2 separate regions of the Homo sapiens genome follow, and region 1 is linked to region 2. Evidence: fine-mapped expression QTL. A gene starts in region 2. The other region holds a variant in brackets. All regions are shown on one strand. Distances are from middle to middle.

The links.
Region 1: its variant is fine-mapped to the expression of TMEM132C in whole blood (TOPMed, PIP 0.97).

The regions. Positions count from the first base shown.
Region 1 is chr12:128,700,812-128,706,179 of GRCh38, reverse strand. TMEM132C (transmembrane protein 132C) reads right to left here. Exons shown (of 9, transcript NM_001136103.3): 9 at 1-1,090. Among named protein-coding and RNA genes, the nearest start is that of SLC15A4, 120 kb to the left of the region's middle. The variant G/A (reference allele first, on the strand shown) is at 3,274.
Region 2 is chr12:128,264,652-128,270,019 of GRCh38, reverse strand. TMEM132C (transmembrane protein 132C) reads right to left here and starts at 2,850. Exons shown (of 9, transcript NM_001136103.3): 1 at 2,533-2,850. The coding sequence starts at 2,617. LOC107987176 (a long non-coding RNA gene) reads left to right here and starts at 2,988. Exons shown (of 2, transcript XR_001749176.1): 1 at 2,988-3,449. RefSeq lists enhancers at 1,809-2,647, 3,183-3,704.

The sequences.
Region 1 (5,368 bases), 440 kb before region 2:
CCGTGGGGCAGCTGTCGTCCGGGGGGATGGTGGTAAAGGTGGTAAATTTCACCTTCTTCCTCTTGGAGGTGGGCGAGTGCAGGGGGTCCTGCTTCTGTTCTCTGCCCTGCCGCCCCCCGGAGTCGGCTGACCTGTGAATCTGGCTCTGCACGTGCTTGTGGGAGCCACCATTGAGCAGGAGATGGTTGCTCTCCTCGCAGGCCCCCGGTCCGCGGTCTATGATGGTGGTGTGCTCGTCCTGGGGCGGCGGCGCATCCCCCATGCTCTCCAGGAGTTCGGCCTCATTGCCAAGCCACACCCAGTCGTGAGAGTGGGTCATGGAGGCCTGACCTTCCAGGGGCACTTGCTTGTGCCTGTACTTCAGGGCAAAGGTGGCGCAGTTGATCAGGAAGACGAGGATGGCCAGGCAGAACACCCCCAGGAGGGCGTACATCCCTATCTCCAGATCACTCAGGCCCCGCGGAGTCTGCACCAGGTCGTTTTCCTCCAGCCCACTCCCGGCCTTGGGGAGGTCCACGTGGGCAGGGAAGTTGGTGAAGTCAATGGGGATGTTCTGCAGCTGCCCCTCTCCTGCCAGCCTGCCCCCGTCTGCCCGACTGTTCTTCACCACTTTGTTGTCCAGCAGGGACCTGGCCGTGGTAGTGGCTCTTCGGAGAGCCCCTTCCTCACGCTCCACGGGAGAGCTGCCATAGAGGTGCCCATCTTGGCCTGTGCGCTCATGGTGCTGGCCCTTCTGCCGGCGGTCGCTGGCGTGGTTCTTGATCTCATCTTCCTCATAGTCCCCGCCGGGGCTGGAGTCAGCATCGTTCTGTCCGAACTTGACCCTGACGTTGCCGACGCCCACAGCCAGGATGCTCTTGCGTTTAGATTTCTGGCAGGCCTCGGCGATCGTCATGTCCACTCGGATCAGTGGGCCCTGGCCTTCCCCTTCGGCCACCACAACGGGCCACCTGGGAGAGCGGGGCTGGGGGACTGACACGACAGCCTCGTCCTGGGAGGTGGCTGCCAGGGAGAAGTCCTTGGTGTCGTAGATGTCCAGGGGCGTCACAGAGCCATCACTGAACTGCAGCCACGTGCTGAATACAGCCTCCTGCAGGGACACAGGCAGTTAGAAGACCACCTGGGGGATGCCTTTTCCCTTAGAAACCCCCTCCTAGGAGGACGCCCAATGAAACAGGGAGCAGGACCTCAAATCCAGACCCAGTAGCTCATGCATCTGGGGAGAAATCATACAGGTTTTCTATCAGGGGCAGAGAAACCACCTTAATTTAAACAAGAACAAATGGGGATGTGACTAACAGTGCCCTCATAATCCTTACCCAGAACAAACAAATGGCAAAACAAAAATCCCTAAGTGAGATGAGGCTCCGGGTGGCTTTATCCACACAGGTATTGCTTGAATCAGTCAGCCGGTGCATGTTCACAGACAATGACTGGCTTCTAGGGCAGGCCCTGGTCATTTTGTCACACACTCTGTGATTAGTGGCCTAAGTATGATGAATGGATACAGCTGTTGTCTGTATCCAGCCTGATGACAAAGGTTGATGGGCAGGAAACACTGTCAGAACCAATGACATCAGAAAGGAACCTCCCCTCTTCTCCCTGCACTGCCCCCAGTGAATTAAGCTTTGCCTGAGAAACAAGAAAACAAGAGCATTTTGCCCTTTAAGGTTGACCCTGTTGAGCCATTGCAGATGCTTTGCTTGGCTGTAGTTGGGCGGCAGTGATGTGTGGGACACAGTACATGGCATTGGCTGGTGGGCCCGGTTCAATTGTGCTGCCCTTGCTCTGCATGGGTAGCAGAGTGAAAGAGGAAGCAAAGGGCCAGTGTGAAGGGGCTGAGTTTATTTTGCAGACTCACTATACTTCTGTCAGTGACCCAACAGCTATGTAAAAACTATTTGCCATTGTGGGGACTGGTAAAAAAAAATTGACTTTATGTGCCTGGCTTATTTTACTCAAAGTAATGTCTTCCAGGATCATCCATGTTGCTGCAAATGGCAATATTTCATTCTTTTTATGGCTGAATAATATTCCAAAAAAAGGGGAAGCTACTGGCCTAGAAATGCCACTCACACCCATGCCTATGTGACTGGCAGATTCTCATGAGCACAAGGTTTCCTGCTGTCTCGCCTCCTCCCCAGGGCAATAATGACATCCTCTCCCCTTTGTGTGCCCACAGCAAACATAATCCCACAGAAGGCCTTATTCTTGACTTAGCCATGGGTACTTCTATTCTGCTTCCAAGAGTGGGAACTCCCATGAATAGAGGAGGGTGAAATGTGCAATCCTAATCATAAAACAGACAGTCCATATCCACTGGGCACTCGCTGTGGGTCAGGTGTTGTTCGCAGTTATTACAGAACGCATTTTCTCCTCTTCCACAAAGTAGGTTGGGTTATGCTTCCTGCCCAAAGAGAGGTTAAGAACTGTGCTCACATGCACGCATATGTTCATCGCAGCACTATTCACAATAGCAAAGACATGGAGTCACAATAGCGAAGACACAAAGTCAACCTAAATGGCACCTGATCCACAGCAAGTGCCCAGTGGATACAGGCTCTCCACTTTGTGCTTAGAATTGCATATTTCAGCCTCCTCCATTCATCTAGGAAAAACTCTCCAGACCATTAATGATAAACTGGATAAAGAAAATGTGGTACACACACACCGTGGAATACTATGCAGCCATAAAAAGAACAAGATCCCATCCTTTGCAGGGACCAGATGGAGCTAGAGGCCATTATTCTTAGCAAACTGACACAGAAACAGAAAACCCAACACTACATGTTCTCACTTCTAAGTGGGAGCTAAATGATGAGAACACATGGACAGATAGAGGGGAACAGCACACACTGGGGCCTATTGGAGGGTGGAGGGTGGGACCAGGGAGAGGATCAAGAATAATAACTAATGGGTACTAGGCTTAATACCTGGGTCATGAAATAATCTGTACAACCAACCCCCATGACACAAGTGTAGCTACATGACAAACCTGCACAGGTACCCCTGAAGTGAAAATAAAAGTTAAAAAAATAAAAAAAAGAAATATGTCCAGTCATATCGTTAGGAAGAGGCAGGATCAGGGCTGGAACTGCTGTGGCTTTAGAGCTGAGCTCTTGACCACTGTGCTAGGGACCCCCTAGAACAACCACTGCCAGAGCCCATTTTATCAGCCCCACAAAGACCATGATGACTCACCCTCTGCTGAAAAAGTCAAGTAGCTGCCTCCTTTCCTCCCTGCCTTTTTCACAGCAAACCAGGTCTGACCTC[G/A]TGGCCTTCCTGGACCTTTGTCCCCATCCATCCCGGACACTGTCATTGCAGCCCAGGGAGGTAGCAGCACCCACTCCATGGACGGGGCATGGGAAAATCCTACCTGCTGAGCCAGAGATACAGCAGCAAAGCTTGTGTGCGCTCTGAGCACTGGATGGAGATGTCGCCACTCAAAACCAAAAGCCCACACTTGGGTGGGATAACTACCTCTGTGGTATGCGAATTGGGAGAAAAGAAACTCACTTGAAGTTGGACCTGTGCAAATGCAAATACAACCTCCTTCAGAACAAAACAAAGCCGAGCAACCAGGGCTCAAGAGGTGCTCATGATACAAAGAAAGAAAAGTTACAACCTGTAGGTGGCAAGGCTGCACCGGGAGTGGTTGTGTTAAACATTTACACAGGAAGGTGAGCAGACTGATATGTGAGATCATAGAAGACTCCAAAGGCTATAACTTAAAGGAAACCAACAAAAAACAACAGTCTATGAAATAAAACAATAAATAATGTTATTTATGAAATAATAACATTTCATAATAATACATTTCATAATAAATAAATTTCATAATAAATGTTATTTATGAAATAACATAAAACGAACCAACAAAAATAGTCTATGAAATAAAATTAAAAAGAAATTAAAAATTTAATTAAAAAATTAAAGAGACATTAAAAGGAGTTGAAATTGTCTCAATAACAGCAAATGGGGGCCAGATGTGGTGGCTTATGCCTGTAATCCCAGCACTTTGGGAGGCCGAGGTGGGCGGATCACCTGAGGTCAGGAGTTCAAGACCAGCCTGGCCAACATGAGGAAACCCCATCTCTACAAAAAATACAAAAATTAGCAGAGCATGGTGGTGGGTGCCTGTAGTCCTAGCTACTCAGGAGGCTGAGGCAGGAGAATTGCTTGAACCTGGGAGGAAGAGGTTGCAGTGAGCCAAGATCACACCACTGCACTCCAGCTGGGGTGACAGAGCAAGACTCTGTCTCAAAAAAAAAAAAAAAAAAGAAGAAGAAGCGAATGGAAGCAGAGCAGGAAGGGGTGCAAAGAGCCACGTAGAATTTCTAGAAATGAAAAACACAGTCACTGAAATCAGTGACTCAATGGGTGGTTCGAACAGCAGATGAGACATGTTCAAGGAGAGAATTACTGCAGTGGGAGACAAAGCCACCCACGTTACCCCAAATAGAACCACAGGCATATCAAGAAATAAAACTGTGAAGGGCAGGTGAACAGACATAAAGGAGAGAATGAGAATGTCCAACGCTTGTTTGGTAGGAATTCCAGAAGGAAAAATTGGAGTAGCCTGGGAGCAGCCAGTGTTCACAGCAATGATGACTCTACATCCCGCAGGACCAAGGAAGAATGCTAGCAATTAAAAAAAGAATTCTGATGACATCGTTTGAGCATCTACATGTAGCTGTAGCTGAAGATCCAAATGCTTGGACATGAACTGATACATTCTGCTGTGTGTGAAGGCAGGTTGAGTTGGATTGGGTCATATCACTTGTGTTGGTAAGCCCTGGCCAACACCAGCTGGCTCTGAGGGGTGAGCCTGTGTAGGAAGTTTTAGGAGGGTGTGGAGTTCTCTTTGGGTGGCTGCCCATTCAGCTCCTGCTAGCTCAACTTTCAATGATCAACTTTGCTTTTTTTTTTTTTTAACTTATTTTTTGCCCAAGGTCACTCTCTGGCTTCTGGAATCCATGTGGTTGTGCCTACAGCAAGATGTGCCAAGGAGTTAATAAATGCTGTGGGCAGCCCTCAATGAAGGACTCATGGAAGTTGTTATATTTATCCCAGATCCCTTGCCCCTCAAGTGCAGTAACTCTTCTGGCCTTTCTAGACCGGCATACAGTCGCCCAGCAGACAGGAGCTCCGGCTGCCCTTGGCGGCGGCTGAGTTGGTAATACACTCTACTGGTTGCATTTCTCTTCCTTCCATCACCCCCGACTTCTCTACTGGTATTGTCTTCACCACCTGAATAAACTACTTGCACCTGAATCCTTGTCTCAGGCTCAGCTTCTGAGCAGACCAAAACTAAGACAGAAGAGATGGCTCAGCGATGTTGGTGCTCACCCTCGTCTCCTCTGTCCAT
Region 2 (5,368 bases):
CAATGCCCTGTCCTATTTATGGAACCTCCCAAGAACAATTCTGCCTTTTCCGAACCCTGACAAATTGCAAAGCCTCTAAATCCACAGTCAAAAATAAACAGACAATTGGTATTAAAAATTAATCAGTGGTTTCAAGGATTCCAGAAATCAGCACTTAAATCCGTGTGCAGGAAGAGACAGAGATGGCTTTTTTTTTTTAAAGACAGCAGAAATGTAAACAAGGTCAGCAAACTTTCCTCTCTAGAAGATATCTTACGGTGCAAACGCTTTACGTGTGGAGGAATCCGAGGGGGGAATGAACTGCTGCTTTTGATCATGAGAAACAAACGGAAAATGTATTTTGCAGATGATAAGTTGCAGGCCCTTATGCACCCCCAAATCACGTGGTGAACTTTGTAAAGCAAAAAGCAGGGAAAGAAAGCCCCATCAAATCAAGGTTGCACTTAGCTAGAGGGCAGAGGCGGTTTGGGATAGGGGTGGGGCTTCGCTACGTCCCTAGTTTTCAGCACTTTCCCTTGTTGTGCAAATATCAGCTTCAAATCCAGTCCCAGTTGCCTTTCCAGCCAAATCACTGCCCCCAGCACTGAACACATGGACATCTGTAACAGCCACTCTCGTAATCAAAAGTAAAATCCTCTGGATACACACACACACACACACACACACACACACGGAATGTGAGCCTTAATGAAGAACAGTCCACACTTGCTTTAAAGGGAACATCCAGTTCGCCTGGTTAAATTCTCTCAAGGGCAAGGGGTGAAAACCCGGAGGAGGTCGGTCACGCCCTGCTCAATTAGCACCGCCTTCCTCTGCAAAGTGCTTTACTACCCATTCAGTCATTTTATCAACAAAAAACTGCTGGGAGGTAGGTTGGGAAGGGAATTCTTCAATGGCCACTTTGCATCTAGGAAAACTGAATCCTAGAAACGCTGGAACCTAGAGCTAATTAACAGCAGAATTCAGGCACCAGATCGTGACTGTTGACTCTTTCAAATAAAATAGAAAAGTGCCCCCCTCTCCTACTCCTCCACCCCCGACTTGCCCCCCCTTTCCCTCGTCTCTCACCCCCTTTCCCCCCTCTCTCGCCCCACCCTCTCTTTCCCTCTTCTCTCACTCCTTCTTCCCCCCCCTCTCTCACCCCACCCTCCTCCCTACCTGGAGCTCTTGGAAGAAAGGAACACTTATATAAAACATAGCAAACTTGTCTGGTTGGTGTATCTGGGAAAGCGCAGCCTCAAGGAAAGTAGATTTTTCTGGATTTTCAGGCGGTGCAGAATGACTTTTGAAAAGCAAACGCTACTTTTAAACCTCCATTGACAACTTGTCTCTCTGAACGCATTTCTAGCTCAGCCTCAGAGCATTAGGCGGGAGAAGGGTGGCTTTGAGTGTTCTCTGCTCAGAGCCTGGGGCCGATACTGGACCCGCGGCGCCGCGCGAAGGCTCAGGGCACCCATGTGCGCACCTCCGTTTAACCAAATGAACCCGAGACCTTCGCCAGGGCGCGGGGAGCAGGAAAGCGACGCTCTCCTTTTTCTACGCCCTGGGCGCGCCCCGGGACTCGGGCAGCTGCTGCCCTGGCAGAGCCTAGGCCTTGCTCCCCGCCTGCCCCGCGGCTCCTGGGGCTGGAGACCGCCTCTCCCCGCCCTTCCCGCCGCCGCATCCGCGCGGCCACTCGGCCGCACACGCACATAATAAAAAAGGTCGGAAAAACCACACGGCTACCTTTCGTGAGCCCTGCGGGCGCCATACGTTAACTCCTTTAAATTCCTCCAACCCAAAGCAGGGCCGTCACTCCCATTGTAGAGAAGAGGACACTGAGGTGAAGGAGCCCCGGACAGGACCGCTGGTGAGGTAGTTCCCGTCGCGAGGGACGCACCCACCTCCCCATCCGCGCTCCCCCACCGCAAAGGACTCATTTGAGAGAACCCGCAGAGAGCCCCTGGTTTCTGCCAAGCTGGGGTCCCTGGTGAGCTGCGCGATGAGTGAGCGTTCCTCTAGGGCCCGCACAGAGACCCTAGCGGTTGCGGAAAGGGGATGCAAAGAACCGGGCCTTCCCTCCTGGAGCACCAGCCCCACAGTGCCGAAGCTGTGGATGGGGAGCTGTGGACAGGGAGCACACAGCCGGGAGGAAGGAGCGCACAGAGCGGAGCACCTCTCCTGGATGCCAGTTCCACAGGGTGACTGTGCTGGGGCTGGGGCAGGTCCGCACGGAACTCAGGGATGGGGAACAAACACCGTGTCCCTCAGCCACGCCCCCTCCTCATCCGCGGGGCAGCTCTGGGTCTGGGGGGTCCGGGGTGGGAGATTCGGGACTCGGGACCAGCCTAACTTGCCCGGATCCCGGCGCCCAGCTGGGAGCGCCCTTCTGGATTAGGGGCGGCTCGGCACCCGCAGAGGCGCTGTTGATGGGATCCGAGCCCCCGCCGAGGCCCCCGCCGCACCCCTCGCTTCGGCTGCCCTCACCCCGAGCTCCCCCGGAACCGGGAAGTTCGCATGCGTCGGCGCGCCAGGCACCCGCCCCGGCCTTACCTTTGCCCAGCAGCGCGCCCAGCAGCAGGCTCAGCGCCCCGCACAGCGGCGCCGCCGGCCCGGGGGCCGCACCCTCGGAGCGCATCCTGCGTCCCGGCCGCTCACGCAGCCCGCCGCCAGCCCGAAGCGCAGCGCCCGCCCGCGGCCCCCGCCGGCCGCCCCATGCCCGGGGCCACTCCCGCAGCCCGGTCGGCCGGGCCCGCTGCGTCTCTGCTGTCCGAGGCCCGCCCCTGCCGGGTCCACGCCGCCGCAGCTCCGGCTCTGGCTCTGGCGGCTCCGGCTCCGCCGCTGCTCGCGCTCCGGCCGGGACAACTTTTCTCCCGCAGCCTCCGCAGCCTCCGCAGCCGCCGGCCCGCCCCGCCCCCGGCCCCGCCCCCGCCCCCGCCCGGGCCCCGCCCCCGCCGAGCCCCGCGACCGCGGACAGATTGAGGGTGCGGTAGGAGAGAGTTCGCCTGCCCGCCGGGAGGGGCGGCAGATGGAGAACCCCCCCGCCCGGGCTAGGGAGGGTGTGCCCGGGAAAGAAGACCGGGAGAGGAGGGGGCGTCTCCCCAGGCGGCTGGGACGGCTCCTCCGGGGGTCCGCGCCTTTCCAGAGAAACTCAGCGTTCGCAGACTCCTGCCCGGGTGCCCAACGGACAGCGGCCCGTGGCCCGGAGGGTCCTGCCCAGGGACCCGACGCTCAAGGCGGAGCTGGACTCCTTCTCCCCACCCTCCCGTGGTCACTGCGGGACCTGGTGGTCGTCACGCCCCATTCCTCAACTTCAGGTGGCCGCTGCTTTAGCCTGGAGGGCTGGGGACATCTGGAATGCAAAGTCCCGCGCAGCTGCTGCGGGGAGAGCTCCTAACTGGATCACTGAGCGCGGAAAAGCAGCGCGCAGCGGAGCGTGAAGGCGGGGTGCGGGCTCAAGACAGATGCGGGTGTGCACCTGTGCGTGTGCGGAGGGGGCGAGGCACGAGATCACAGCGGTGTCTCTGGGAAGGGGACGAGAACGCAGAGGGGAAGAAAGGATCATTTTTCACTGCATGTCTGTGGGGCTTCCACTCCCCAATCATCTCCCCGCCGCCCATAGCATGTGTTTTATTATCTTTTCAGTGGGTGGAGAATAGCCCCTCTCTAGACTTGCTCCTGCAATAGGCAATTTCTCTGCAGACTCAGACAAGGAAGATCCGCCCTCCCCCCCCCCCCCCCGACTTCGTTCTCTCTATCTTTTCCCTCTGATTTCTCCAGGGCTGGCCTCCCTCATGGTGGTGATCCCAGGTGATCTCAGCGGCTTCCCTGTGCGGTTCCTGATGCTCATGCTCTGCTCTTTCTGCCACGCGTGGTCTGAGCAGTTTGAGGGCGGGACCCCGACTCCCCCCTTGTGACTGGGAATGAAGGGCCATGGGTTCGGAGGTCTCTGGACGTCCCCTCCTGTCCTGAGCTCCTCACCACGGGCTCAGCATCCCCTCTCACCGTGGGCTGGCTCGGTCCAACATCAAAAGGAAGCCTGAGGGGTCTTTTCTCACCATCAGTGCAGGAAAGAATTTCAAAAGAAAAAAAGAAGTCCTTGATTGAAAGAAAAGAAATGTAAACGAATGATCCCCAGCAACTGCAACCCCAAGTCTTATCTCCCAACTCAGCCCCTAAGGAATGAGCCAGGCATAAGGAGAAATTGGGGCGGGGTGGGGCGAAGGCTTTGCAGGGCACTGGCCAGAGTGGGAGGCTCTCTCCTGGGGTGGGGCCCGGAAGTCTGGGCCAGGCTGGGGGGAGATGTCTCCCTGGTTTTCTTGGCCGGCTCTACTCACATGATGTGAGGAGAAGGCAGCTTGAAAACTATCCAGGCCCCAAAGGGAACGGTAAAAGCTTGATTCTCATAGGCCTGGATAGCAGAGACTTGATTTTTAAAGTGGATTATGCTGATAATCGCCCAATTCTTCAGTACATTCAGCTAGTGTAGACCTGACCTTGGGGGCAGGGGGCAGTTGTAAAGTAGATTTGGGCTCCTAAAACGGAAGGTACGTTTTATTCTCAGTGCTTTGAGCCTGAACATCACCGGGGAATAATTTTTTTTTCATTTAAATGTTCCCAGCATGAGGGAGAAATACACATGTCCCATTGTTTGTAACTGAGGATGGGAATCTGCCTTATCCTCTCTCCTCCCTATTGGATAACAGGGACAAAAAATAAAAACCCAAAGAAGTGCCCTCCACTCCCCTGTTCTATGCAGCCTCATAATGTACCTTCTTTCCACATCATTTCTTTCCTTTTGGCACAGAACATTGCTGTCCCTACTGCAAAGACAAGTCAGGTCCTGGACTACATCTCTGTGATGCAAATAATCAAAACCAGGGGCTACCAAACAAGCCACAGCAAAATAAATACTAATTCAACATGGGGTTGGAGTGGGGAAAGGATTCTCAATCAGATAAGCTCACTGCACAGCACCCCAAAGGCAGCCACTGTCTTCAGGTGATCCTGAATCACAGATGCCCCTTGAGACTATGATGCCTCCGGGCATCCCCTGTGAGAGCCTTCAGGAGACCCAGCAAATGAAAGCTTCTCTGCAAACCTTCCTTTAGGACTCCATTTAATCTATTGCGTGTCCCTCTCAAGAGCAGTCAAACAAACATGCACACAAAACTGAACAAACAAATAAAACAGATGATATAGTCAATTTCTCTTTCATAGGTAAATCCACAAAAATTGAGGTTCATGGGCTAATAAAGTTTTCTGTATTTATTTTTTTTAAGTCATGTATCATTTAACCCCCAAATCATTAATTCCTTAACTTAGATTACTTCCAGATGGTTTTCTGAATTTCATAAGGAACATCAGAGGCTTCTAATCTCCTCAAAGG